5 separate regions of the Homo sapiens genome follow, and all the other regions are linked to region 1. The links come from fine-mapping of genetic effects on gene expression. A gene starts in region 1. Each other region holds a variant in brackets. All regions are shown on one strand. Distances are between the middles of the regions.

Region 1 (5,104 bases):
CTTCCAGCTTTATGACTCCACAGAAAGGGCAGGAGAAGAGAAAAGAAGGCTTGCTTACATCTGCCCGATGTCTGGTTACCAGCGCATAGCCAGAACAAGGCTGAGAGCCAGAACAGCTGGCCTTCCAGAGAAGGTCGCCATGTAAACACAAGGTGGGATAGGACACAAAATATTAATAAATGCAGCCACACTGACCAGGAGGAAGCTTTTCAAGGATAGGGCAGAGGACAGAGAGACAGAGAGGGAGCAGGGCACTGGCTTTTGGTACAGACAGCAAACACATGAGAGATCGAGGCAGAAAACCACCATCTCCACAGGCTGCCCTGGATCGGGCCATGCTGTCCCGTCCTCTCCACCTGGATAGGGAGAAGCAGGGGTATGACCATGTCTCTCTTCAGGATGTTCAACCAGGAATGCAAAATAAAATTACATGGATCCCTTGCAGGCTGCAGTGGCTCACACCTATAATCCCAGCACTTTGGGAGGCTGAGGCGGGTGGGTCATTTGAGGTCAGGAGTTCAAGACAAGCCTGGCCAACATGGTGAAAACCTGTCTCTACTAAAAATACAAAAATTAGCTAGGCGTGGTGGTGCATGCCTGTAGCCCCAGCTGCTTGGGAGGCTGAGGCAGGAGAATTACTTGAACCAGGGAGGCAAGGCTGCAGTGAGCTGAGATCAGGCCACTGCACTCCAGCCTAGGCAACAGAGCAAGACGCCGTCTCAAAGAAAAAAAAGATTTACATGGGTCCCGTTCCACCTCCTTTGCATGGGAAGGTTGGGGGAGCAGCACTGTAGGATTTCCTGGGCAACCAATGCCCAGGAGGCCAGCCTAAACCATGTCCCCTGCTTTTTGGGGCACTGGCTAGGTTCTGAATGTTGGTGTCTCCCCTAAATTTATATGTTGGAAACCTCATTCCCAAGATGATGGCATTAGGAGGTGGGACCTTTGGGAGGTGACTAGGTCATGAGTGCAGAGCCCTCAAAATTGGGATTAGTGCCCTCAGAAAAGAGGCCCCAGAGAGCTGCCTTTCCCCTGTGAGGACACGGGAACCAGAACTCTGGCCCTCGCCAAACACCTAATCTATTGACACCTTGATCTTGGACCTCCCAGTCTCCAGAACTGTGAGAAACACGTTCTATTGTTTATAAGCCACTCAGTTTATGGTATTTTGCTATAGCAGTTTGAAGGGACTAAGCCAGGACTCCAGCTTTCCTTTCTGGCCTCTGCTGGGAAACAGCTCCTGCTCTGTGGTCACAGTCTTGTGGGCTCCCCGTTCCCTGAGCTCTGAGTGGGCTCAACAAAGTGAAATGTGGAAGAGGAAAAAGAGATCTGGGGCTTGACCAGACTTGTGTGTCCCAGGACATCTGCAGTGACTGCCTTCAGAAAACCTTCCAGGAAGAACGTCAGTCATGCCTTCCGGGAGCTCAGGTCTGAGGCATCTGGTTGTACCACAGCCCTGATGGCAGGGGACTTCAGACTGCTCATGCCGGCCTGGCACTTCCTGATTCGACTTCAGCAAGGCAGGCAATGTTCTAGAACCTGACCTCCGATTTAAACTGAGTTTCTCCTTCCCTTGAGCAAGGAGGACAGTGAATCAGAAGGACGTAGATCCCCTCACTGTATCACTGTGTGTGTATCTACTCACTGTGCGTGCGTGTTCTCACGGCCCCATTGCATTATTTAAAGGGACACTAGTTTATTCGGATGGAGAGCTCAGTCCACCCCACGTCAAGCTTATGAAGCCCATTTCCTGGCCCCCTTCTAGGAATGTCGGGAGGAGGGTGTCGCGTGGGCTTTGAAGTAGGACAGACCTGGGTTTGGGTTTCTGTTCTGCCACTTGTCCTTGGTGACTGAGCCTCAGTCTACTTGGTTGGGAAATAGGACGGTCGGGAGTGAACCCGCCCAGGGTGGGCTTCCAGTCACCCGCACATATGCGGGGCACTGGCCGCCCATCCCTGCCAGGCCCCGAGGATGCCCGCGCTCGTCCTCGGCGTCGCGGGTTGGGCGCGCTCCCGGGCGCATTCCCGGCCGGGCAGCCCCTCCTCCCTCGTCCTTAGCCCAGGGGCCGGCGCCTCCCCGCCTCGCGCGGACTGTCTCGTGCGGGCAGCTGCGGGCGCACCTGGACCCTCGCAAGGCCCGGGCGGCGCCGATCCCCGCGGGACGCGCTGCGCTCGGGGCCTCCCGCCTCCCCCCCTGCCCCAGCCGCCCCCCGGCCGCGCGGCGCCCCGCACCCTGCAGGGACGGCTGCCGCATCGCTGGGACAAACTCGGCAGCGGAGGCAAAGTTATTTCCCCTCCCAGGCAGCGGGATTCCGACTGGCAAGATGGTGCCCAGCTCTCCGCGCGCGCTCTTCCTTCTGCTCCTGATCCTCGCCTGCCCCGAGCCGCGGGCTTCCCAGGTCAGTGTCCCTCCCGCCTCTCTCCAGGCCAGTGTCCCTCCCGCCTCTCTCCAGGCCAGTGTCCCTCCCGCCTCTCTCCAGGCCAGCGTCCCTCCCGCCTCTCTCCCCTGTCCCTCCCGCCTCTCTCCCCTGTCCCTCCCGCCTCTCTCCAGGTCAGTGTCCCTCCCGCCTCTGTCCCCTGTCCCGCGCGCCTCTCTCCACGCCAGTGTCCCTCCCGCCTCTCTCCAGGCCAGCGTCCCTCCCGCCTCTCTCCAGGCCAGCGTCCCTCCCGCCTCTCTCCAGGTCAGCGTCCCTCCCGCCTCTCTCCAGGCCAGCGTCCCTCCCGCCTCTCTCCAGGTCAGCGTCCCTCCCGCCTCTCTCCAGGCCAGTGTCCCTCCCGCCTCTCTCCAGGCCAGCCAGTGTCCCTCCCGCCTCTCTCCACGCCAGTGTCCCTCCCGCCTCTCTCCAGGCCAGTGTCCCTCCCGCCTCTCTCCAGGCCAGTGTCCTTCACGCCTCTCTCCAGGTCAGTGTCCCTCCCGCCTCTCTCCAGGCCAGCGTCCCTCCCGCCTCTCTCCAGGTCAGCGTCCCTCCCGCCTCTCTCCAGGCCAGCGTCCCTCCCGCCTCTCTCCACGCCAGTGTCCCTCCCGCCTCTCTCCAGGTCAGTGTCCCTCCCGCCTCTCTCCAGGCCAGTGTCCCTCCCGCCTCTCTCCAGGCCAGTGTCCCTCACGCCTCTCTCCAGGTCAGTGTCCCTCCCGCCTCTCTCCAGGCTAGTGTCCCTCCCGCCTCTCTCCAGGCCAGCGTCCCTCCCGCCTCTCTCCAGGTCAGCGTCCCTCCCGCCTCTCTCCAGGCCAGCGTCCCTCCCGCCTCTCTCCACGCCAGTGTCCCTCCCGCCTCTCTCCAGGCTAGTGTCCCTCCCGCCTCTCTCCAGGCCAGCGTCCCTCCCGCCTCTCTCCAGGTCAGCGTCCCTCCCGCCTCTCTCCAGGCCAGCGTCCCTCCCGCCTCTCTCCACGCCAGTGTCCCTCCCGCCTCTCTCCAGGTCAGTGTCCCTCCCGCCTCTCTCCACGCCAGTGTCCCTCCCGCCTCTCTCCAGGCCAGTGTCCCTCCCGCCTCTCTCCAGGCCAGTGTCCCTCCCGCCTCTCTCCACGCCAGTGTCCCTCCCGCCTCTCTCCAGGCCAGTGTCCCTCCCGCCTCTCTCCCCTGTCCCGCGCGCCTCTCTCCATGCCAGTGTCCCTCCCGCCTCTCTCCACGCCAGTGTCCCTCCCGCCTCTCTCCAGGCCAGCGTCCCTCCCGCCTCTCTCCAGGTCAGCGTCCCTCCCGCCTCTCTCCAGGCCAGCGTCCCTCCCGCCTCTCTCCACGCCAGCGTCCCTCCCGCCTCTCTCCACGCCAGCGTCCCTCCCGCCTCTCTCCACGCCAGTGTCCCTCCCGCCTCTCTCCACGCCAGTGTCCCTCCCGCCTCTCTCCAGGCCAGCGTCCCTCCCGCCTCTCTCCAGGCCAGTGTCCCTCCCGCCTCTCTCCCCTGTCCCGCGCGCCTCTCTCCACGCCAGTGTCCCTCCCGCCTCTCTCCAGGTCAGTGTCCCTCCCGCCTCTCTCCAGGTCAGTGTCCCTCCTGCCTCTCTCCAGGCCAGCATCCCTCCTTCCTCTCTCCCCTGTCCCGCGCGCAGGGGAGGCAGCACCAAGGCTGGGGGACCCGGGCTTGCCACTTTCCACTCGGATGCCTGGGTTGAGAGCTCGGAGCGATGCCTGGGCTGGGGTTCAGTTTTCAGAGAGAGGTGCAGGGTCCCCCACCTGTCACCTCAGATGCATCGCTGGCCGGGCCCCTGGGAGGACCCGGGCTGGGCTGCGAAAGCGTCGGTCCATTGTGGGCGAGGACTCCACGTGAGCACCGCCGGGAGGAAGAAGATTTCTCAGGGAGCTATGAGACATTGGTCTTTCCTGGGTCTCCATGAGAGCTCCAGGTCACCTAATTAGCTTAGAGAACGTCCCCGCCCTCCAAACTCCGACATTTAAATTTCCAACCGAAGTATCAGAACACTCACGGGACTTTCTCAGCAGTTTGTGGCATTTCCCAGGCAGAGGTGGCCCGGGAGGTTTCCGAAGCGGTCCCTTCCCGAGCCGGCGAGGCCCTGGATGTGCGACTACATTTTCTTAAACACATATACAGGCGGCTTGCTGTTTAATTTTTCTGTTCTTGCCGTTGGCATTTGTTCGAATCTCACCGGATTTATTTGTTTAATACTTGACCAGATTCGCTTTTATGTTAACCATTAGCAACTGATTTTTAAAATTAAGGCGAGAACTTGAATTGCCGAGTCCGGGACCCACATCCAGCAGAGTAGCCCTGGCAAGCCAGGGTGAGGGGCCCGGCCATGGACTGCCGACCCCGCTACCTGCACAATACCAACAGCGGTGGGCAGCGGAGAGCCTGCACACGGAGTGCCTGGTGCGCCTCAGGCTCCCTGCAGGGCATCTTCCAGTCACTTCATTCCCGGAGCTACCCTGTGAAGTGGGGACTGTTACCCCCATTTTGCAGATGATGAAAGTGAGGCCCAGGGAGGATGAGATGTATTCAAGGTCACACAACCAGAAATGAGCGGAATAAACCCAGTCTCTCTTGTTGGGCTCCAAGATTTCTTCCTTGCCTGCAGACACTTGCCCATACTCCCTGGCCAGAGACTGACTTCCTGGGCCAGGCAGGCATGCCCATGGCCACCTAGAGGCCCCTACGGT
Region 2 (5,104 bases), 99 kb after region 1:
GTTAAAAGCCCTCAGAAAAGTGGAATCCAGAAGAGGTACTTATTATTCTACCCTGCTTACATCTACAGACCAAGGAAAGGGAACTTCTAAAAACCAAAATCAAAATACAGGAAGGTGGGGAGTGGGGAGATTCAGTAAGGCCAATGCTCAGAAATATTGATTTTTAATTTCCAGAGGGAGCCAGGATGAGGGACTTTAGTAGTAAAAAATTTGTAAGACTCAGTGGCCTTTGAAATGCCTCATGACTATTTGATCTTCTCTGGGCTTCCCATTTTTCCCGAGTCATTGATAGTATAACACTAAAAAAAAAAAAAAAAAAAATCAAGGAGTGACCAGGCACAGTGGCTCATGCCTGTAATCCCAGCACTTAGGGAGGTGGTGGGTGGTGGGAGCCGAGGCAGGTGGATCACCTGAGGTCAGGAGTTCAAGACCATCCTGGCCAACATGGCGAAACCCTGTCTCTACTAAAAATACAAAAATTAGCCGGGCATGGTGGCGGGCGCCTGTAGTCCCAGCTACTCAGGAGGCTGAGGCAGAAGAATCACTTGAACCCGAGAGGCGGAGCTTGCAGTGAGCCGAGATCGCACCAGCCTGGGTTACAAGGCGAGACTCTGTCTCAAAAAAATATATGTATAACAATAATAAAAAAAATCAAGGAGCTTGTGTGCATATATTCAGGAACAACAGTGAGAACGCTAAGGCTTAAAAGTGGTGCTGGCAGCTAATCAGTGAGAAAAAGAAAGCTGCAATAAGAAGGAAGAACACAGAGAACCCAGTGACAGTAAAAGGACATCTTCATCCGAAAACCGATTCTGTGGGATGCTTCCACCTCTCCATATCACATAGCACTTCTTGTCACTGAAGTATAAGATCAAGTCCAAAAGCATGCAGGGGTCAGGTATTCCTAGAAGCATATATTCCAATACCTCTTCCTGTGAGCCGCTGTTCCTCAGCAAAGCATTTGATCCTTTGTTTCCAGGGCCAGGCCATTTTCGCTTCATTTTCTTCTGTTTGCCATTCTTGTGACCAGCTTTAAGATTTTTATTTTTTTGTTTAGCAGCTAAAAACAAAAAATTAATTTAAAAAATGACATAAAGTTACAATAGCAGTTTACTTTTAAGAAGTACGGGGCCAGGTGCAGTGGCTCATGTCTGTAATCCCAGCTCTTTGGGAGGCTGAGGCAGGAGGACTGCTCAAAGCTAGGAGTTCAAGGCCAGCCTAAGTGTTCAAGGCCAGCCTAGGCAGCCTAGAGATCTTGTCTCTACAAAAACATAGCTGGGTGTGGTGGTGCACGCCTGTAGTCCAGCTACTCTGGGACTATAGGCTAAGGCAGGAGGATTGCTTGAGCCAAGGTGTTCAAGGTTACAGTGAGCTATGACTGCACTGCTGCACTCCAGCCTGGGCAACAGAGTGAGAACCTGTCGCAAAACAAATGGAAAAAAGAAGTATGATTTACAATAATTGAGGAAAGTTCTCTAAGGCTCAATAAGTGAAAACTGGCATGATAGTGATCAGTTTTCCTAGAAGCTCTGGGACTAAGGGACCAAAAAGAGAATTATGATAATACATCCTGGATTCCCCATTCATTGTTTTTAAAAATATATAAGGTATTGTCAAGAAAAAAGCAAGATAATAAAATCAGTCTTATAAGTTCTAAGGCAGATCCTTTTGAAGTGTTCAGAGTATGATGGATCTAATTAGGAACTGCAACAGTAAAACTTTAAGTGTTTACAATGACCTCATAAATTACTGTCAGATTTTTCACTGAAAACATTTTAAATAGATCAAGTTTTTATTTATTTATCTATCCGTGCACGCATTTATCCATCTATCCTGCAATGGCATAATCATAGTCTACTGGAGCCTCGAACTCCTGGGCTCAAGCAATACAGATCCATTTTAAGTAAAGAAAACAACAAAAAAATGACAGCATTAAAATTTTA[AT/A]TTTTTTTTTTTTTTGAGACAGAGTCTCGCTCTGTTGTCCAGGTTGGAGTGCACTGTGTGATCTCGGCTCACTGCAACCTCTGCCTCCTAGGCTCAAGTGATTCTCGTGCCTCAGCCTCCAGGGTAGCTGGGATTACAGGCATGTGCCACCATACCCTGATACTTTTTTTTATTTTTAGGTTTCACCATGTTGGCCAGGCTGGTCTCGAACTCCTGACCTCAAGTGATCCACCAGCCTCGGCCTTCCAAAGTGCTGGGATTACAGGCGTGAGCCACCATGCCTGGCCAAAAATTTCATTTATAATTGCCATTTGCCCTCATATTTATGGCTAAATCTCATTTTAGTAATCTAGAAGAATATATTTCTGAGTTACAGTCTGACATACAACCATTCCAGTCAATCCTCTTTAAATGACAGCAATACAAGCAGGCATATCCTATCCTTCACACATGCAGAGGCCAGGGCTTTAGCATTCTCCCTTTAGAAATAGTCAGGGCCTTTGATAACCCACCTCCATCCTCCAGCTCCCTCTACAAACTAAGCATTTAATGCACCAAGTGGCCAGGTCTCAGATGGGGTCTCTGGCCATGCAAGCTCATGTCTGGTATAAATATTCATGAAAACCATAGTCTTATCATAAGATAAAGTGCAAAGAAAAATCCTCTGTCCGTATATGGACAACTGTGACTGCTTCTCTAGATAAACTTTAAATGATAAAATAGTTTGACTCTTACCCTGTGGGGTATCTTTTACTCCTTCTTTCTTTGTAGATTCTTCAGGTTGAGCAGCATTTGCCATTTCTCTGGCTTGTATGTACTGTTGAAGCTCTTTGGCAAAATTATCTTCTGATTCCTGACTGCAGATATCATTATCACTATATACATCATAGTCCTTACTTCTTGATTTTCTATGCAGCGAACTTTTTGGTGATATTGCAGAGTGTCTAAACTAAGTAAAAATTAAAACTTCAATTTTAAAAACCTAGCATGATTCAAAACAATCTGGCTATACAGAAGAAACAAGATTGGCTATAAACTGGTCATTGTTGAAGGTGGGTAATAGGTACATGGGATTCATATACTATTCTCTCCACTCATATATTTGAAAATTTCCAGAATTAAAAAAAAGAAAAAATTTCCAGAATTAAAAACAAACTAACAAACCACTATGACATATCTATCCTTAAAGATGATTTGAGGGAAAATTCTAAATTTGTACATTGTGTGCCTTTGACTGAATTAAAAGTCTAAACCCCTAAATCTTAATTATTTGATATGAGAGGATTACAGTATTACAGTTCACACATTACATTTCTGCCTTTGCATTGACAGTACTTTTAAATGTCTTCAATAATTTATCATTTTGTAAAACACCCCAAGTAAACTGTAATGGTCCATATGAAAACCCACTTACACTTAAGATACATCTAAGCTACCAAAGTCTAGTCTTTCTCCTATAACTCACAGAAGTGGTAGCAGCAATGATGACAAGGAATAAAGAACTACCCTATTCTCTGTAATCAAGTTAACTTTACTTGCAGAAAGAGTTTCCTAACTCTGTTGTTGCACGTGCCCAAGGCAAGGGTGAAGAACCCAGGCATGGGAGCTAATCCTAGAGGAGCCCAGGCTGATGACAGCAATGACTTAAAGCAATTTCTGCATAAAAATTTTCAGGTATTGGTTACATGTGTTTCTACACTTGGTGACACAGGTATATTAAACTGTATCATTATAATTAGTATGTATGACACATTTTAATCAGAAAGTTTATTTTTAAAAAATGACCAAGTATCAAAGGGCTCCTATTCTGATGTCACGAAGAAATGGCATGCCTATCATTACAGTGGATAATGATTTTGTTTCAAAGCATACTTTGGGGCCTGGTCTCTTATTTGCTTTCACATGATAACTAAGAAGCAAACTCAAAACAAACAGACAAAAAACAAAACAGAAGAATCGCTATTATAAAATATATTAGGTGGCCCAATTTAACAGTTTACTTTTTTTTTTTTTTTTTTTTTTTTTGATGGATTCTCACTCTATTGCCCAGGCTGGAGTGCAGTGGCACGATCTTGGCTCACTGCAACCTCTGCCTCCCAGGCTCAAGCGATTCCCTTGCCTCAGCCTCCCGAGTAGCTGGGACTACAGGCATGCACCACCATGCTCAGCTAATTTTTGTATTTTTGATAGAGACAGGGTTTCACCCTATTGGCCAGGCTGGTCCTGAACTGCTGACCTCAAGTGATCCGCCTGCCTCGGCCTCCCAAAGTGCTAGGATTACAGCCATGAGCCACCATGCCCGGCAACAGTTTACTTCTGATGGTTAACTTCAAAGTTAGGAGTTGTTCCACCAGAGGATTGATTATAAGCCTAGAAAATGAACTTGCTCCCTGCTTAAAGAATCCAAACAAGCTGAGGAAGTTTCTTGATCTGACAATGGCCTCAATTATACCTTATCTTCCCTACACCAGACAAGACTATCAACCAATTATCTTCAGGCCACCAAACTTCTTGTCTCTAGGTCTTCAAGAAAGAGTGCCTTTTCCCCATTAACACCATAGAATAAACTTGTAAATGTAACTTCTGGACTGATAGATCAGGGGTTGGCAAATTTTCAGCTTCACCACCTGTTTCTGTAAATACAGTTTTACTGTAACACCAATTACATCCATTCATTTACATATTGTCTTAGTTGTGACAGAGACAACATGGCCTACAAAGGTGAAAAGATTCACTAACTGATCCTTTATGAAAAGGTTGGCCGACTCCTGTGATAGATTATGTTTACCTTGGTTTTGGCCTTTAATTTTATTTAGTAGGCATGGGGGAACCAAAAAGATTATTCAGTATGCAGCAGCTCCTATGAAGTTTAGCTTAATCAAATACATAGAGGTGAGATTTTCTTCAGTGCATCTGAATCAAAATATTAAAATGATCCAAATGAGTGATTAAGTTCCCTCTGTCTGCACAAAACACATAGGCCTACAGTATTGAAGCAGACTCCTTTTACGACAAGTAATAATACGTTGGACTTACATTAAATGAAGACATGAAACAATCTGGCAACATTAATAAAGCCAGGACAATCATCAATTTTGCTGTTTTATTATACAGTAGGGATAAATATTACTAATGATTCTTTTCAGAGGGCATTGAAATA
Region 3 (5,104 bases), 24 kb after region 1:
GCCCCCTTTCTTCTCCCTCAGCCTCAATGTCACCCCTTTTCTTCTTCAGCCTTTTCATTCTGGCCTTAACAACTATCACGTCTTCATACGGACCAAACTGTTGCAAGGCGCCACTTTTAGATCACGCACTGCTTTTCCCTTCCCCGTCCACAAGTTGGATCCAGTTTTGGTTTTGTTTTCATTTTTGATTTTACTTTAAGATAATTTTTTAGAGCAGTTTTAAGTTCATAGCAGAGTTGAGTGGAAAGCACTGCGTTCCTCCACACCCTCTGTGCGTGCACACACACGCGCACGCACACGCGCACGCACACGCACACGCAGACGCACGCACACGCACACACGCACGCACACACACAAGCACGCGCACACGCACGCACACGCACACACGCGCACGCACACACGCACGCACACGCAGACGCACACGCACGCACACGCACACACGCACGCACACACACGCACACACAAGCACGCATACACGCACGCACACGCGCACACACACACACACACACTCAGCCCGAGCCAGTGCAATACACTGGTTCCAGTCCATGACCAAGGTTGGCTCCAGTGCTTCAGGCGTGAAAGTGCACCCTCCAGGGAGTCCCCGTTAGTACCAGGACGGTTGGGAGGGAAGGGCTGCTGAGGACAAGTTCCACTTGTCTGATGAGGCTACAGCCGACACCCCAGACTCCCTCCCATGAGGGCAGGACTCTGACAGACACAAGGGCACTTTTTCATGCTTGCCCTGTAACAGCTTTCACACCGCCAAGACCCAGAGATGGGCGGCTGGTTTTCCTCCGGTGTCTTAGGGTGCTGGGGGACAGGGGCCAGTCATCATGTTCATTCAAAGTCAGGAGCCTGTGGAATATCTGACATCATTTACTCACTGCAGACACATTTATCAAGGGCTGTCTTTGTTGAGTGAGTTGAAGTTTCCTGGGGAAGGCGTTGGATTTCCTACCTTCTCGGAGATGATGGTGGCAAATCCAGCTCTCAACGGCACTGAGTCCGTTCCTGTTTTCCTTGGCTCCACAGCTGCAGAAATAACCACCAGCCAAGCCTCACACTTTCCAAGGCACTGTGAGGCCCAAGCCCTCACTGGGGCTCCACACACCCCAACTCCATGGTGCAGGCAGGGTGTCTTTCCTTCCTGCCTCAGATGGGGAAACTGAGGCCAAGACAAGTAAGTTAGCGGTCAAGGCCTGACTCCACAAAGCCTTCCTTGTTTTCATGGGGTCAGAGCTGCCTGCGGTCCCTGGGAGTTTCAGTGGAGCCCACAGGGAATGTTATACAATTCCCCTGCCCATGTGAGAGGGCCCTGCCCATGTGAGAGGGCCCTGCCCGCTAGACAGATAGAAAGGCAGTTATTATTACATTATTCATCCTCCTTCCCAAGATTCAGGGGCTTTCATCTCTGAAATGTACAACATTTTTTAAAGTGCCAAATTCTCTTTTTAAAAAATCGCCATCATGTATTGTATTTCTAAGTGTGTGGGGGACCCCGTGCTGGGTACTTTATGCGTGCAGAGGCTGATCCTGTGACAGCCCTGCAGAGGACAGGCAGCTGTCAGGATCCCTTTTCAGGGTGTGGTGGGGGTTGGGCCCGCACCTGGAGGAAAGCCAGACACCTGCCCAGATCAAATGGCACATAGTGGGAAAACTACCTTATTGCTTTTTAAAAGAGAGACAAGGTCTCGCTCTGTCACCCAGGCTGGAGAGCAGTGGAGTGATCCTAGTTCACTGCAGCCTCCCAGGCTCAAGCGATCCTCTCACCTCAGCCTCCTAGGTAGCTAGGATTACAGGTGCACACCACTGCACCTGATTTTGAAAATTTTGTAAAGATGGGGTCTCACTATGTTGCCCAAGCTGATCTTGAACTCCCAGGCTCAAGCGATCCTCCAGCCTCAGCTTCGCAAAGTGCTGGGATTACAGGCGGGTGCTCCTGTGCCAGGCCTGTTTTGCCTTTTTTTTTTTTTTTTAAGGGAATTTGCTGGGAGTCAGGAAGAATAATTTCCAGTTCTGGAGAATTCTTGGTCTTCCTCTCTGGCTTCCATATGAAGTACCTCCCTCCTGTTTCCTGGGTGCATCATCACAACCCATCAGCTTCAGGGTTCATCCAGAGCAGCCTCAGCGGATTCATGTCCCCATGTTGCTGAGACTGCTTAACTGTGGGTCTCACTCCTTACATGCTAACTTCACCTCGGAAGGCGCAGGGAGCTTCGCTGTGGCTCTGCACACTCAGTAGGATGTGCTTCTCGCCAACAGAATCAACCAAAGGACACGTTCCCCTTCTGTCACTAGAGAAGGGCCTTCAGCTCCCATTTGGGATGTGACTACAAATTGATTTTTAATTAATTTGTATCCATTAATCCACTCCATTCACATTTATTAAGCATCTATTAAGTGCCAGATACTGTTCAATCTATTCAGGTATGGTGTATTTGTGAGTTGCAGGTAGTTTTCTTTTGTCGAGGTTTTTAAAGATTTTTCATCCCCAAAGAGACCCTACTATTTTCCCCCAATGCATTTTAAAACTCTTTAACGCAATAAAGTACTAGATGTAAAAAAAAAGAACTATAAAGTAATTTATTTCAGAGGCTGAGGCAGAACCCCGGGAGCAGCCGAGTCCTGGGATGTGAGCTCTCACTCGCTTGCTACTCACAAGGTTATTACCACTGGGGGCCAACTTGGAGCTTTACTCAAGGAAGGCGATGCAGCAATGGGCAGATATTCCCCAATCACCAAAGGCCACCGAGCATCCTCGGAGGGTCCGGCACCTCCCTCCGCCCCAGCTCAGGCTGCCACGGCTGCTCCTCAAAGAACCCTAGGTTGTGTCCGGCCCAGGTGGGATTTTGGGCAGGGCTACACCATCCTGCCAGCTGCACTCCTGGACAGGGAGGCCCATCACGCTCCTTA[A/G]TGGCCTCTGGTCCAGGACACCCCTGATCAGTGCATCCTCATGGGGGATGCTCAGTGACTCTGTCACTTGCTTTGACCTGCACAGTTGAAGCAACAGTTCTGTTTGTGCCTGTTTAAAATATGAACATGGCAAATGACACTTGGAATTTACCTTAAATGCATTTTAGAAGTGGCTCTGAATTTCCATCTAAACTGAATCCAAATCCAAGCCATCCTAACTTTGGGCATTCCCTCGTCGCCCATGCGTGATGCTCTGTTGCAAAAAGAAGAGGAACAGGCTAGCTTCACCCCGTCTCTCTCCAACCACATCAGTCCTTCGGGAAATCTTCACAGAGCAGCCAGGATTCGAACCATGTCCCTCATGCTCAGCTACTACCCTGGCCTGAGCTTCCCTCCCCTTCCTCTTGTACGGGCACTTCACAATCAAACCGCAGCAGGAGTGCTGCTGAGAGAGACCTCCAGAGGCCCGGTCTCACACGGAGAACAAGTTGCATGGCCTTTTTGTTTTCTTTCCAATGCCCCGTGTAACTCTGAGCTGTCTTGATCCTGTTGCCTGACTCATGTCTAACTACTTTCCACCTCGTCCACTCTATTCCAGTCCTGTTGCCTCCTTGACATTCCTCAGACCTGCCAGGCACATCCCCACCTCAGGATGTTTGACCAGCTGTCCCTCTGCCCTCCCCAGACATCTGTCTGGCTGTGCCTTCACCTTCAACTCGTTCTGGTGAGGCCTGCCCTGACCACTGTATTCAAAATGATGCCCTCTCTCCAGCATCTCCAGCATCATTCCCTGCTTTCATTTTCTACATGGCCCCACACTTCGCCATTGCTTATTATCTCCCCTGCTAGATGGTGGGCTTCCTGAGGGTTGGGTTTTGTCTATTTTGTTCATGGATATAGCCCAAGTCCCTAATATAGTGCCTGCCTAAGTCCCTAATATAGTGCCTGGCACATAGTAAAGATGCAATAAATAAGGCTCCATTCATTCATTTGTTCAAGAATGATTTATGATTTATCCAGTATTCACTATGTGCCAGGCAGTGGGCTGGTGCTGGGGATACACAGGAACATAGGCCAGATGCATTCTGATGGAGAGGACTGACCGCATATCTAGAAAGAGGCAAGTCAATAAGAAAGTTCGGATGGTTACAGATACTGAGAAGACAGCAGAGTGAGCACCTGGGGAAGAGTGTCTGGGGAGGTCTGGGTTAGGCACGGTGGCCAGGGAACACGCGGGGAGGTGGTGGCATATGAGTGGAAACCTGGAGAGTGAGAAGGAGCCAGTTGTGGAAGCTCTGAGGAAAGAACATTCCAGGCAGAGAGAAGAGCAAAATCCCAGGCCTGGAGCTGGGGCTGAGCCCGGCCTGTTCAGGAGACCTAAAGAAACCCAGGGGGGCTGGAGCCCCAGAAAATCAGAGTGAGTAGGTGGCAGTGATGAAGCGGATCATTGCAGGGTGGGCCTCCCACGCTTCGAGGCCTTGCACACAGCACTTAGTGTCTCTGAGCCCCAGTCTCATCACCTTTTGCTAAGCAGGCATCGTACCACCCATCCCCAAGAGAGCTTTGAGGACTTGATGAGACGCAGCATGCAGAATGACCAGCACAGTGCACAGCCTGCAGCAGGCATGCAACAGAGGGCACTTCGAGATGGGAAGTCCTGTAATTCAGTAATGTCTAAGGGCTGTGGTCCAGGATGAGGAGCTCGTAATCCTTCCATCTCTCCTTACAGTTTCCTGCCCGGCTCTGAACACCCCCGCAGACGGCAGAAAGTTTGGAAGCAAGTACTTAGTGGATCACGAAGTCCATTTTACCTGCAACCCTGGGTTCCGGCTGGTCGGGCCCAGCAGCGTGGTGTGTCTTCCCAATGGCACCTGGACAGGGGAGCAGCCCCACTGTAGAGGTATCGTCTCTCCTTCCCATCCCACTGCGCTGGACCCATCACAGTATAGCAAGGGTTTCTTGCATAGAAAGGGTCATTCCTTGGAACATTTTCTGCTTGGTTCTTTAATCATTCCTCAACCACAGAACAGCAGCCAATGTGCCTGATCACTCACCTCCATGCCAGGTTGGCGCTGGTCTCTATCTGTATGAGCTCACTATATCTTCACAATAATTTAGTCTTGTTTTGCATATGGGGAAACTGAGGCACACAGAGGTTCAAGAACTTGCCTAAGGTTACACAGCTAGGGGG
Region 4 (5,104 bases), 50 kb after region 1:
CAAAGCACATACATTTTCCTCTCAAAAAGAGATCACAAGAGCCCTAGCGTTGTCTTTAAAATGAAGTAACAGCCATGGAGGGTAACTTAATTATTTGAATTGCTGTTGAGTTAAAGCAGATTAGAAGCAGCAAGAAACTTAGTGGCACTGAAGCATGGCAGTTTTTAGAGAGAGTGAAGACATCAGAACCTTCCTCATGAAGTCACTCGGTGAAGGGATAGGGAACGGGTCTATGACGGCCTCTGGGGCATTCGACCAACAGCTGGATGTGACAGTTGACTGCATAATCATGATGCTACAGAATCGCCAAATATACTAGATTGCATTTGTCTTTTAACAACATAGAGAAATATCGAAAGCATTTCCACAAGACCCTCTTTCCAAATGATTAAGGAAAACAGGGCTTCCTGCGTTGAGAATACACGTGATGGCCAGGCACAGTGGCTTATGCTTATAATTCGAGCACTCTGGGAGGCCGAGGAGGGCGGATCCCTTGAGATCAGGAGTTCGAGACCAGCCTGGCCAGCATGGTGAAACCCCGTCTCTACTAAAAATACAAAAATTAGCTGGGCGTGGTGGTGGGCACCTGTAATCCCAGCTACCCAGGAGGCTGAGACAGGAGAATCACTTGAGCCTGGGAGGTGGAGGTTGCAGAGAGCCTAGATCATGCCATTGCACTCCAGCCTGGGCGACAGAGTGAGACTCTGTCTAAAAATAAATAAATAAAATACATGCTGCTGTGTTTAGGAAGTTCACCGTACACCGTGTGGGAAGCACTGCATTACAGGATGTTGCTGGCTAACTGCTGAGGTCCTGCCATTACTGGGCGAGGTCGCAGCACATGGAGAAAGGGCACCTGGTTTGAATATCAGCATTGCCATTGTTATTTAATATTCCCAGGCTATATTTTTCTGTAAAAATGATAGTAATAGCATAAATAAATGTATGTGCACACACATACACACGTACACAGGTGGGCAGGGAGCACCCTTGAGCAGGAACAGAAGCAGCAGCCCTTCCTTTGCCATGCCTGACACCAGCTACATTCACTCGTCCACAGCTCCATAGCTCCTGGGTGAAGGACCCGTGGCTGGGAAAGGTCATCTAGGTGGCCTCTGCAAGAGGGCAGGTGGGCAGCCGGGTCAGAGCAGCTCTTCATGAGACTCCCCAAGGCTGACTGCCTCCATTTTGCCTCTCCGCTCCAGCCAGTGTGAGCGGAACCCCTGCCCCATGGACAGCAGGCCCTGCCGCCATCTGCCCAAGACCATCTCCTTCCATTACCTCTCTCTGCCTTCCAACCTGAAGACGCCCATCACGCTCTTCCGCATGGCCACAGCCTCTGCCCCCGGCCGAGCTGGGCCCAACAGCCTGCGGTTTGGGATCGTGGGTGGGAACAGCCGCGGCCACTTTGTGATGCAGCGTTCAGACCGGCAGACTGGGGATCTGATCCTTGTGCAGAACCTGGAGGGGCCTCAGACGCTGGAGGTGGACGTCGACATGTCGGAATACCTGGACCGCTCCTTCCAGGCCAACCACGTGTCCAAGGTCACCATCTTTGTATCCCCCTATGACTTCTGAGGGTACACAGGGGCACTGGGGTGTGGAGAGCTGACCTCATTTCTCTTCCCCGAAGGCTCAGCTTCGGGCACCGACTGCGTGGAGCCTCCCGCCTGTTCCCGCCCTCTCACCAGTGCACCCAGGCTTCTAGGGCAGCGTTGCACGGCGCCCCATGGAATAGCACGGAAGAGCAGCCACAAAACTCAACTGCTGCCATCACTCTTTTTTTTTTTCTGCTTTGAGGCCCTTCCCTTAGATTATGCACTAACTTTCTTAAAACTTTTTCATCCAGGGGATGGGTGGCTTTCCAAAATGCTGTGCAAATGGCCTTGTGAGTTTGAACTAGCTGGGGAGAGAAAAGGTGGCAATGTGTGTCAGGTGACTATCAGCCCTTCTGCCTTTTTGTAGCCAGGCTTGCTATGAATGAAACGGTTCTAGTCGTGCGGGGGGCCCTAGTCATGCCTCTGCGCATGTGGCATAGGAAGTGGAGTCTCCTCCCATGACCCAGCACGTTGTTCTTATCTGCCTTTTCCTCTGTGACATGCCTGCCTGCCTGCCTTCTCATCAGAGAGTCACAGGAGGGCCTTAAACCCCACGCAGATCCTTCTAGACCAAGGACCCATTGTTAAAAGCATGGATTCTGCCTGAGTTACTTCCCTTTTGAGAAATCATATCTCAAATACATAACCTGGTAATATAACTGAAAAAATAAAAGTGATTGCTCCTT[C/T]CTGCCCGCCTGACTTCTACCTGAGCATGAGACAGCCCACTTCCTTCTAGGAGGGGGTGGCTGACTCTCTTCCTGTCTGGGTTGGATACACTGGAATAAATGAGTCAGAGAACACAGAGGTGATGTTTGGGACTGTTCCACATTATAAATTTGTTTTGACCACATGGGAGATTGGTAAGGACAATACCTGGCCGTGGAGAGTTTAGGAAAATGCTTGAGTTGTCATAGATTCCATGGCCTTTTGTTTCTGATGAATTCACTACAGGGTGACGCCCTCCAGGTGATCAAAGAGAGAAAACACTGGCCAGAGCTGAGTGGGGTGTGGTAGGATGGGGTATGGGGTAGGGTGGGGAAGATCATTCAAGCTAAAACTTAAGAGGTAGCGAAGCTGTAAGAAAGTTTCATTATCTAATTACATGTCAAGCTGCTGGTGAGATTTCCTCACACATATTTTATTTAAATCTTTGTATTTGCCCTGGTATGAGATGGAGCCAGAAGTGTGTCACTAGTTCAATGATCAAGCCCTACATCAAGATGGTTTCTAAGATGGTTTATTCTTGTACTGTTGTTTGGACAAAGGTTGAGACACAGTCAAGAGTTGCTTTTGAAATGTTTCTTCTCCCATGGGCTCAGCTGCGATCTCTAACAACAGAAAAAGGACATGCAAACTAAAGTTACAAGACTTCATTAAAACATTATCCACAGCCTTATGTTTCTAAATGTAGCTATGCTGGGCCAGAAGCCTGCACACCACCCAGTCCCATGTGCACAACACCAGGCGGAAGAGTCTAAGGGCCTGGCCAGGTTCCTGAATGGGAGATGTCACAGCTGTGGGCTAGGGACAGCCCACACATCACACACATCATATGTGAGATATGATGACATATGATGTGGGATATATGTGGGATATATTGAGATATGATGTGTTCAGGGGGACAAGCCTCTCACATGCCAGAAGGTGGGGAGTGTTTGGGGAGTCTCCAGAGCAGGTGCCCTCTAAACTGGTATATGATAGGGCTTTGATGCCAAACAGCCCAGTTTAAAGCAACAATTTCCATCACCAAGATCTGCCGTCATCAAACCTGCTTCCCACTGATGAAATCACGCACCCAGCCCCGGTGCCCACAGCACCAAAGTACAAATGGCTGACTGCTTAGGATGTGGATGATGGCTGTGGACAATGATGGCTGGGCACTTCTTGTGGATGATGTGGATGATGGGTCTTTTGTGGATAATGGCTGGGCACTTCTCCCTGTGGAGTGTCTTGTTCTCTATATGCTCTCTCCTCACTCTCCTCTATGGAATCAACTTTTCTTTTGTCCTTTCAGAGCTCCACTCTGTACTAAGAGTAACTACTGGTTAACCAGAATTCATTTGCACCCCTTTCCAGGTAATATAGTTTCATATTATTTGAGGGAGGGGCTTTAAGACTTTTTATCATGCAAAGTTGCAAACATATGCAAAAGTAGAAAGAATAGTATAATGAACCCCATGTCTGAATCAGTAGCTTCAACAATGAACACATGGCCAACTTGTTTCATCTGCTATCACCCCACCTCATGATGATTCCCAATCCTATCATTTCATCTATAAATATTTTAGAATGTATCTCTAAAAGACAACTTTTAAAAAAAGGATAACCAAAATGCCATTCACATCTAAAACATTAATTCCTTAATACCTTTAAATATTCAGCCATCGTTGACATTTCTCTGAGTGGCTTATATTTTTTTGTTTACTTGCAGTAGGTCTATGCACTGTGATTTATTGATATGCATTTTAAGCCTTTTTTTAATCTGTAGCAGTGGGTCTCACACTTCAGCATATATTGGAATAATCTGAAGGTTTGTTGGAAGACAAAATATAGGGTCATTTATATTGTAGAATTTTTCACAGTATGAGTTTTTCTGAGTGCATCTCTGTCTTCTCTATTTCTTATAAATCTAGAGAGTTAGTCAGATTCAAGTTAGATTTATTTAGGCAAGACTACTTTATTGGTGGTGACAGATGCTTCCAGTAGGAGGAGCAAAATATCTGGTTGCCTCTCTTTTCTGATGTTAGCCCCCGCAGATTGCACAGATCCATTACTTCTGTAGGGATTGCAATTAATATTCTAGTGCTATTGATTTTTTCTTTGTTTATTAGCTGACATACTTTATAAAGAGAAACACACTCTCATCAGTTATTTGGTTACCCTGAGATTTGGTTTGTATAAGAAAAGTAGGATTGATTCTTGGCTTTCCTCCCTTTATTTTTCAGTTTTCAAAATGAGATGGTTCACAGGCATCTTTCCAACATGCCCTGTGAGAGTTGTTTTCTTCTTTGAGTACATTATGAACTCATGGTTGAAACATATCTGATGTTATCATGTGTGTTATCATCTGTATTAATAGTAATTACAGCTACTGTCTTTGTTTTTGCTCAAATTGTTCTATCTTTGGTTCTTGGGAGCTGCTTCGAGGTGGCTGATTCCTTTTGACATGACCCTAGTAGTCTTTTTCATCCTGTATATTTTCTGCCCCTGCCCTGAAATCAGCTGTTTTCTCCCAGTAATCCCTGGTTCCTTCTAGTGGGGGATGGTAATTAGACATCAAGGTCTGAGTGCTCAGAGTGCTCATTGGTAGTGGTTACATCATAGTTTCTTGGCTTTAGTGGCTAGAGCTAGGAAATATGTATTATTAGTATTTTTTAAGATAAAACACTACATGAGTTCATGCTGATACTTCCAATTTAATTCAGGACTACTGTGGGTTTTTTGTTAGTTAGAGGGGAGAACTGGCATAGGGACAGGGTCTCTCTGTGTCACTCAGAGTAGACTGC
Region 5 (5,104 bases), 31 kb before region 1:
GAGCAGTGGTTGCTTTTGGTGAGGTGGGGATTGACCAGAAAGGAACTTAAAGAACCTTCTGTGATAATGGAAATGTTAACTGTATTGATTGGCATGGCAGTTACTCAAGTGTATATATTTGTCAGGTTTCTTCAGACTGTACACTTAAAATTTGTAATATATATATATATACACACACACACGCTTCAGTGTTCAAAAATCACTGTATTCCCCTTCTAAGAGAAATGTTGGGGTTTTGAATGTCCCAGGAAAACATTTTTGGATTGAGGAACCTCATTTTTATTTATTACATCAGCTTATGTTATAATTGTTCTAGTTTATGGAGAAGCAATATTTGCAAATTAGTGTAATAACAAAAGTGACTACTTACTGGGCATAGATTGTGTGTCAGGCATTTTATATGTGCTAACTTGTTCAATGGTCACTAGAACTCTATGAGGTAGAAATTATTATTATCCCCAGTTTATAGTCAGAAACACTAAGTCACAGGAAGTTAATTGCCTTGCCCAAGATTCCAGTGAGGCAGACACTTAGCCTTTGCTCCACTGAAACTGCAAACATGCAGAAGAGCCTTGGTCAAATATGAAAGAAATCTTGATCTTTCCTATCTTCTTTATGCCATACGCACATTTCAAAATTTGTACATCAGGGATGTAAAGCATACCCAAAGATGTGTTTTGTTCTTGAATGTACCATGAATCCTGAAGATTTTTAAATCCATAAACTTTAAAATAATTGCAATTAAGGAAATATGTATGCATGTATACTTGTTTAAACTCTAAAACTAGGATTCAAACAAGAAACTTGAAAACCTGGTGGTTCTGACAAATAGTTTCCAAAAATCTGTGAACTTTTTTCATATATTTTTCCTACATTCCCAAATGGTAAATCCAGCATCCTGCCTAAAGTTTCCATTATTAACCCTCCATTTCTAAAAAGATATAGTATTTTTTCTTATCAGATTATTAAATTTCTAAAGGAAAATATTATTTTGTGATTTTATATATATGTTTATAATGTCTCTCGTAGCCGAAGGAATAAAATTAAGAGCCTCAAAATCAGTTTCCAATGGAACAGCTAAGCCTGCCACTTCTGAGAACTTTGTGAGTATGGTATATATTTAGTACAATCTTAGTCTTCCTTAGTCTTCACTACTTTAGAGAGCTATACGAGTGTCATATTCATTGACTCTCAGAAGAACAGTTTTTACTAAGATTTTGTTGTTGTTGTTATAAAAATTAGTGTTGCCAAGTGCCAAGTAGCAATCCTGGTTGTCCATAACTGAAATACCTTCATTGTAGATCTCACTTCTCACCTGCTGTTCCTAGGCCAGCAGCATGAGCATCATCTGGGAACTTGTTAGAGATGCAGAGTCTCAGGCCTACCCCGGACGCTCCTGAATTGGAATCTGCTTTTTGAAAAGATTCCATAGCCTGTTCATCTGCACATTCGAGATGGGAAAGCTTTGTTCCAATAAAAGCTTGTGTTAACTTTTCAGCCTATGAAAGTGATTTTTGAAGCCATTTTAAAATAACATTTGTTATCTGTTGGTAAAGAACTTTATGTGTTACCTACACGGTTACCAAAATTAACAGATTTTTTTTTTTTTTGAGGTGGGAAGCTTGAATAAAATTGTAAAACATTGGGCAGAGATGAGCTAAAAAATATTTTCTGCATGTTATTTATGCATAAAAATGTTTTTGAAGACAACAATGTAAAATGGAAATGTCTATCATATAGTTTTATACTTTCCTTATAACTATATGTGCTGTGATTAATACTATGTAAAAATTTATGTATGCATATATAAGTTCTGACACGATAGATAATATGTGAAGACATTTTTTATCTGTTAGATTTGGCAGATTCTCTAATAGATTAGACAGATGGATAAATAAACAAGATGGATAACATAGACTGGAGGGATGGATAGAAAGGATAGATGGATGGATAAAATAGATAGATAGGTAGTTAGATAAGATAGACAGACATAGACAGATAGCTATCTCAGCTGACCTGCTTTCCTTTTCTTGCCTCCTGTAGGGAGATGAGCATAAATGAGTGATACAAATAAATAGGCTTTTCTAAAGTTAGAATATTTGAGATCAGGCCCGGTGGCTAATGCCTGTAATCCCAGCACTTTGGGAGGCTGAGGCAGGCAGATCGCTTGAGCTCAGGAGTTCGAGACCAGCCTGGGCAACATGGTGAAACCCCATCTCTACTAAAATTACAAAAAGTAGGCGGATGTGGTGGCATGTGCCTGTCATCCCAGCTACTCGGGAGGCTGAAACAGGAGAATTGCTTGAACCTGGGAGGC[A/G]GAGGTTGCAGTGAGCCAAGATCACACCGCTGCACTCCAGCCTGGGCGACAGAGTCAGACTCTGTCTCAAAAAAAAAAAAAAAAAAAGAATGTTTGTATTATCATCATTTTTTTTAAAGTTATAAACTCATTATATAAGAACTAGAACAAATTAGGAGGCATAATGAGTGTGGCAAAGCAAAAATTCAATATCCTTGCTATTTTCTATCTTACAAATGAACTTTGTGTTTTTACTGTGATTTCTCAGGACAAAAAAAATAATATTTCATACATCCAACTAAAACCAAGAAGTGTAGAAATCTGAAATCTAATTTTTGCGTGTGTAAGAAAACAGTGGCATAATTTCTGTATGGCATGAGTGCCAACTTAGGACATATGTAGAAACTAAAAGAATGTCAAATATTTACATTTAAACACTTAAGTTATATATATATTCTGTTTTAAAAATTCTGCTGTCAGGTGATATTAAGCAAATGCTAAGTATAAATATTTCTACAGGATGAAGATTTGAAGTGGGTAGAAGAAAATATTCCCTCTTCATTCACAGATGTGTAAGTTATCTTCTGTTACAGTTTGATTGTAAATTTTAGGCTGTAGTTTAAAAGGGATCGTTCTCATCCTTTGTCATGTGCTTTTCAAACCTCGTACTTGCATGTACTTGGGTAAGCCCCTATCACCAGTACATGGCCCTTACAGAACTGCAAAGAAAACAAAACCCTGGCTTGTTTTGTTTTTCACGATACAGCAACCATTTTAAAACTAGTGGCCTCTAACCAACTCTAGCTTTTTCTGATCTGCCATTATCAGGATCATTTCATTTTTTATCTATTATGGAAAACGTCAAATGTATGTAAACTTTTTTTTTTTAAAGGTAACCACAGCACCATGTATTGTGAGGAGGCTTTTGGAGGAAAAACATGAGTATAGGAATCCCCTCTGGAAACTTTGAGCTATTCAGGATCCTCTTTATCTATGTTCTGTTTGACACAAGAATTCCAGATAGCTGTTTCCATAGTGAAAAATAGAATAGCCAAGTATGATAAAATTTTTTTACATATTGGTCTTTCCCTCCCTAGCCCCCATCTGGTTTCTGTTTAGATAGCTTCTGTGTACTATGATATTCCTTTTGCCTGAAGAATTGCCTTTACATTTCTTTCTTGTAGTGCAGGTATGCTGGTAGTGAATCTGTCAGATTTTTGTTTGTCTGAAAAAGTCTTTGTTTCACCTTTATTGAAGAAATTTTTGTGGGAATAGAATTCTTTGTTGACCTTTTTTTTCTTTCAACACTTAAAAGGTTGGTCACTTGAATGTCTTCTGGCTTTCATAGTTTCAGAAAGATGTCTGCTTTAGTTCTTATCTGTGTTCCTCCACATGTTATATGGGTTTTGTTTGTGTGGGTTGAGGTTTTTTTGGGTGAGAAGGGCTGGGGAATTGTCTGCCTTCAGGATTTTAACTTTATCTTTAGTTTTCGTCATTATGAATATGATAATTCTAGGTTTGTGTGGGCATATATTTTCATTTCTCTTGGCTGTATACCTAAAGTGGAATTGCTAGATCATATGGTAACTCTATGTTTAACATTTTGAGGAAGTGCCAAGCTGTTTTTCAAAGCAGCTGCATTATTTTATAATCCTATCAGCAATATATGAGGGTTCCAACTTCTCCAAACTTTTTGTTAACACTTATTATTGTCCACCTTTTTGATTTTAGCTCTTAGTGACTATGAAGTGATATGTCATCGCATTTATGAGTTACTGGAATGCAAACTGCCTTGCTGGGGACTAGTGTTAAATATATTTAACTATGGAATTCAAACTGTCTTGTTGGGGGACTAGTGTTATTTAACTAAACTGTGATAACTGAAATTAATGTATAAATAGTCTGTGCAAAGTAAGAACTGCCTATTCATTATGAAACTAACAATACACTGTTATACTTTTTTATTTTAGCAGTCAGAAAAGGAAAATATGGGTGTATATATTCTTTTATATTTCCCATGTATTTACTTTTTCTTCTTTCTTTCCTCTATATATGAGCTAAGACCTTCCTCCTATAGGTCTTTCTTTAATATTTCTTATAGGATAGGTCTGCTGACAACAAATTCTCTCAATTTTATTTATGTGAAAATGTATTTACTTTTCCTTCCTTTTTAAAGGATAGTTTTGCTGGATATAGAAATCTTGATTGACTTTTGTTTGAGCACTTCCAACATGTCTTTCCAATATCTTCTGGCTTTTGTTGTTTTTGAGGAGAAAGTAGTCATTAATTGTATTGTTCTCATGTGTGTGATGTGACATTTATCTTTTGCTGTTTTTCTGATTTTTCCTTTATATTTGGCTTTCTGCATTGTGTTTATGATATGCCTAAGTATGGTCTTTTTTTTTTTTTTTTTTTTTTGTCTATCCTCCTTGGAATTTGTTGAGCTTCTCAGATCCATGTCCCATGGTCATTTTCCAGTGCCTTCAGCTACTTTTTTTTTTTTTTTTTTTTGAGACGGAGTCTTGCTCTTTCACCCAGGGTGGAGTGCAGTGCAGTGGCGTAATCTCAGCTCACTGCAGCCTCTGCCTCCCAAGTTCCAGTGATTCTTCTGCCTCAGCCTCCTGGGTAGCTGGGATTACAGGCAGGCGCCACCACACCCAGCTAATTTTGTATTTTTAGTAGAGACGGGGTTTCACCATGTTGGCCAGGCTGGCCTCGAACTCCTGACCTCAGGTGATCCATCTGCCTCGGCCTTCCAAAGTGCTAGGATTACAGGCATGAGCCACTGTACCCGGCTAGCTACTTATT

Direction of the effects. Alleles are on the strand shown, and positions count from the first base shown. SD is a standard deviation of normalised expression in the study named. Not every link is listed here.
For the expression in fibroblasts of the gene that starts at base 2,053 in region 1, A is the low allele of the variant in region 5 and G is the other (moderate effect, 0.42 SD a copy in GENCORD).

The links.
Region 2: its variant is fine-mapped to the expression of FBLN7 in whole blood (INTERVAL, PIP 0.96).
Region 3: its variant is fine-mapped to the expression of FBLN7 in whole blood (TOPMed, PIP above 0.99).
Region 4: its variant is fine-mapped to the expression of FBLN7 in whole blood (TOPMed, PIP 0.94).
Region 5: its variant is fine-mapped to the expression of FBLN7 in fibroblasts (GENCORD, PIP 0.95).

What each region holds. Positions count from the first base shown.
Region 1 is chr2:112,136,333-112,141,436 of GRCh38, forward strand. FBLN7 (fibulin 7) reads left to right here and starts at 2,053. Exons shown (of 8, transcript NM_153214.3): 1 at 2,053-2,398. The coding sequence starts at 2,324. RefSeq lists an enhancer at 3,870-4,583.
Region 2 is chr2:112,235,636-112,240,739 of GRCh38, forward strand. It overlaps ZC3H8 (zinc finger CCCH-type containing 8), which reads right to left. Exons shown (of 9, transcript NM_032494.3): 3 at 2,680-2,893; 4 at 927-1,060. It also overlaps a transcript of FBLN7 not described here. Among named protein-coding and RNA genes, the nearest start is that of ZC3H8, 17 kb to the right of the region's middle. The variant AT/A (reference allele first, on the strand shown) is at 1,944.
Region 3 is chr2:112,160,359-112,165,462 of GRCh38, forward strand. It overlaps FBLN7 (fibulin 7), which reads left to right. Exons shown (of 8, transcript NM_153214.3): 3 at 4,643-4,813. Among named protein-coding and RNA genes, the nearest start is that of FBLN7, 25 kb to the left of the region's middle. The variant A/G (reference allele first, on the strand shown) is at 2,914.
Region 4 is chr2:112,185,929-112,191,032 of GRCh38, forward strand. It overlaps FBLN7 (fibulin 7), which reads left to right. Exons shown (of 8, transcript NM_153214.3): 8 at 1,206-2,290. The coding sequence ends at 1,578. Among named protein-coding and RNA genes, the nearest start is that of FBLN7, 50 kb to the left of the region's middle. The variant C/T (reference allele first, on the strand shown) is at 2,285.
Region 5 is chr2:112,104,973-112,110,076 of GRCh38, forward strand. TMEM87B (transmembrane protein 87B) reads left to right here. Exons shown (of 19, transcript NM_032824.3): 16 at 1,030-1,103; 17 at 2,816-2,868. Among named protein-coding and RNA genes, the nearest start is that of FBLN7, 31 kb to the right of the region's middle. The variant A/G (reference allele first, on the strand shown) is at 2,318.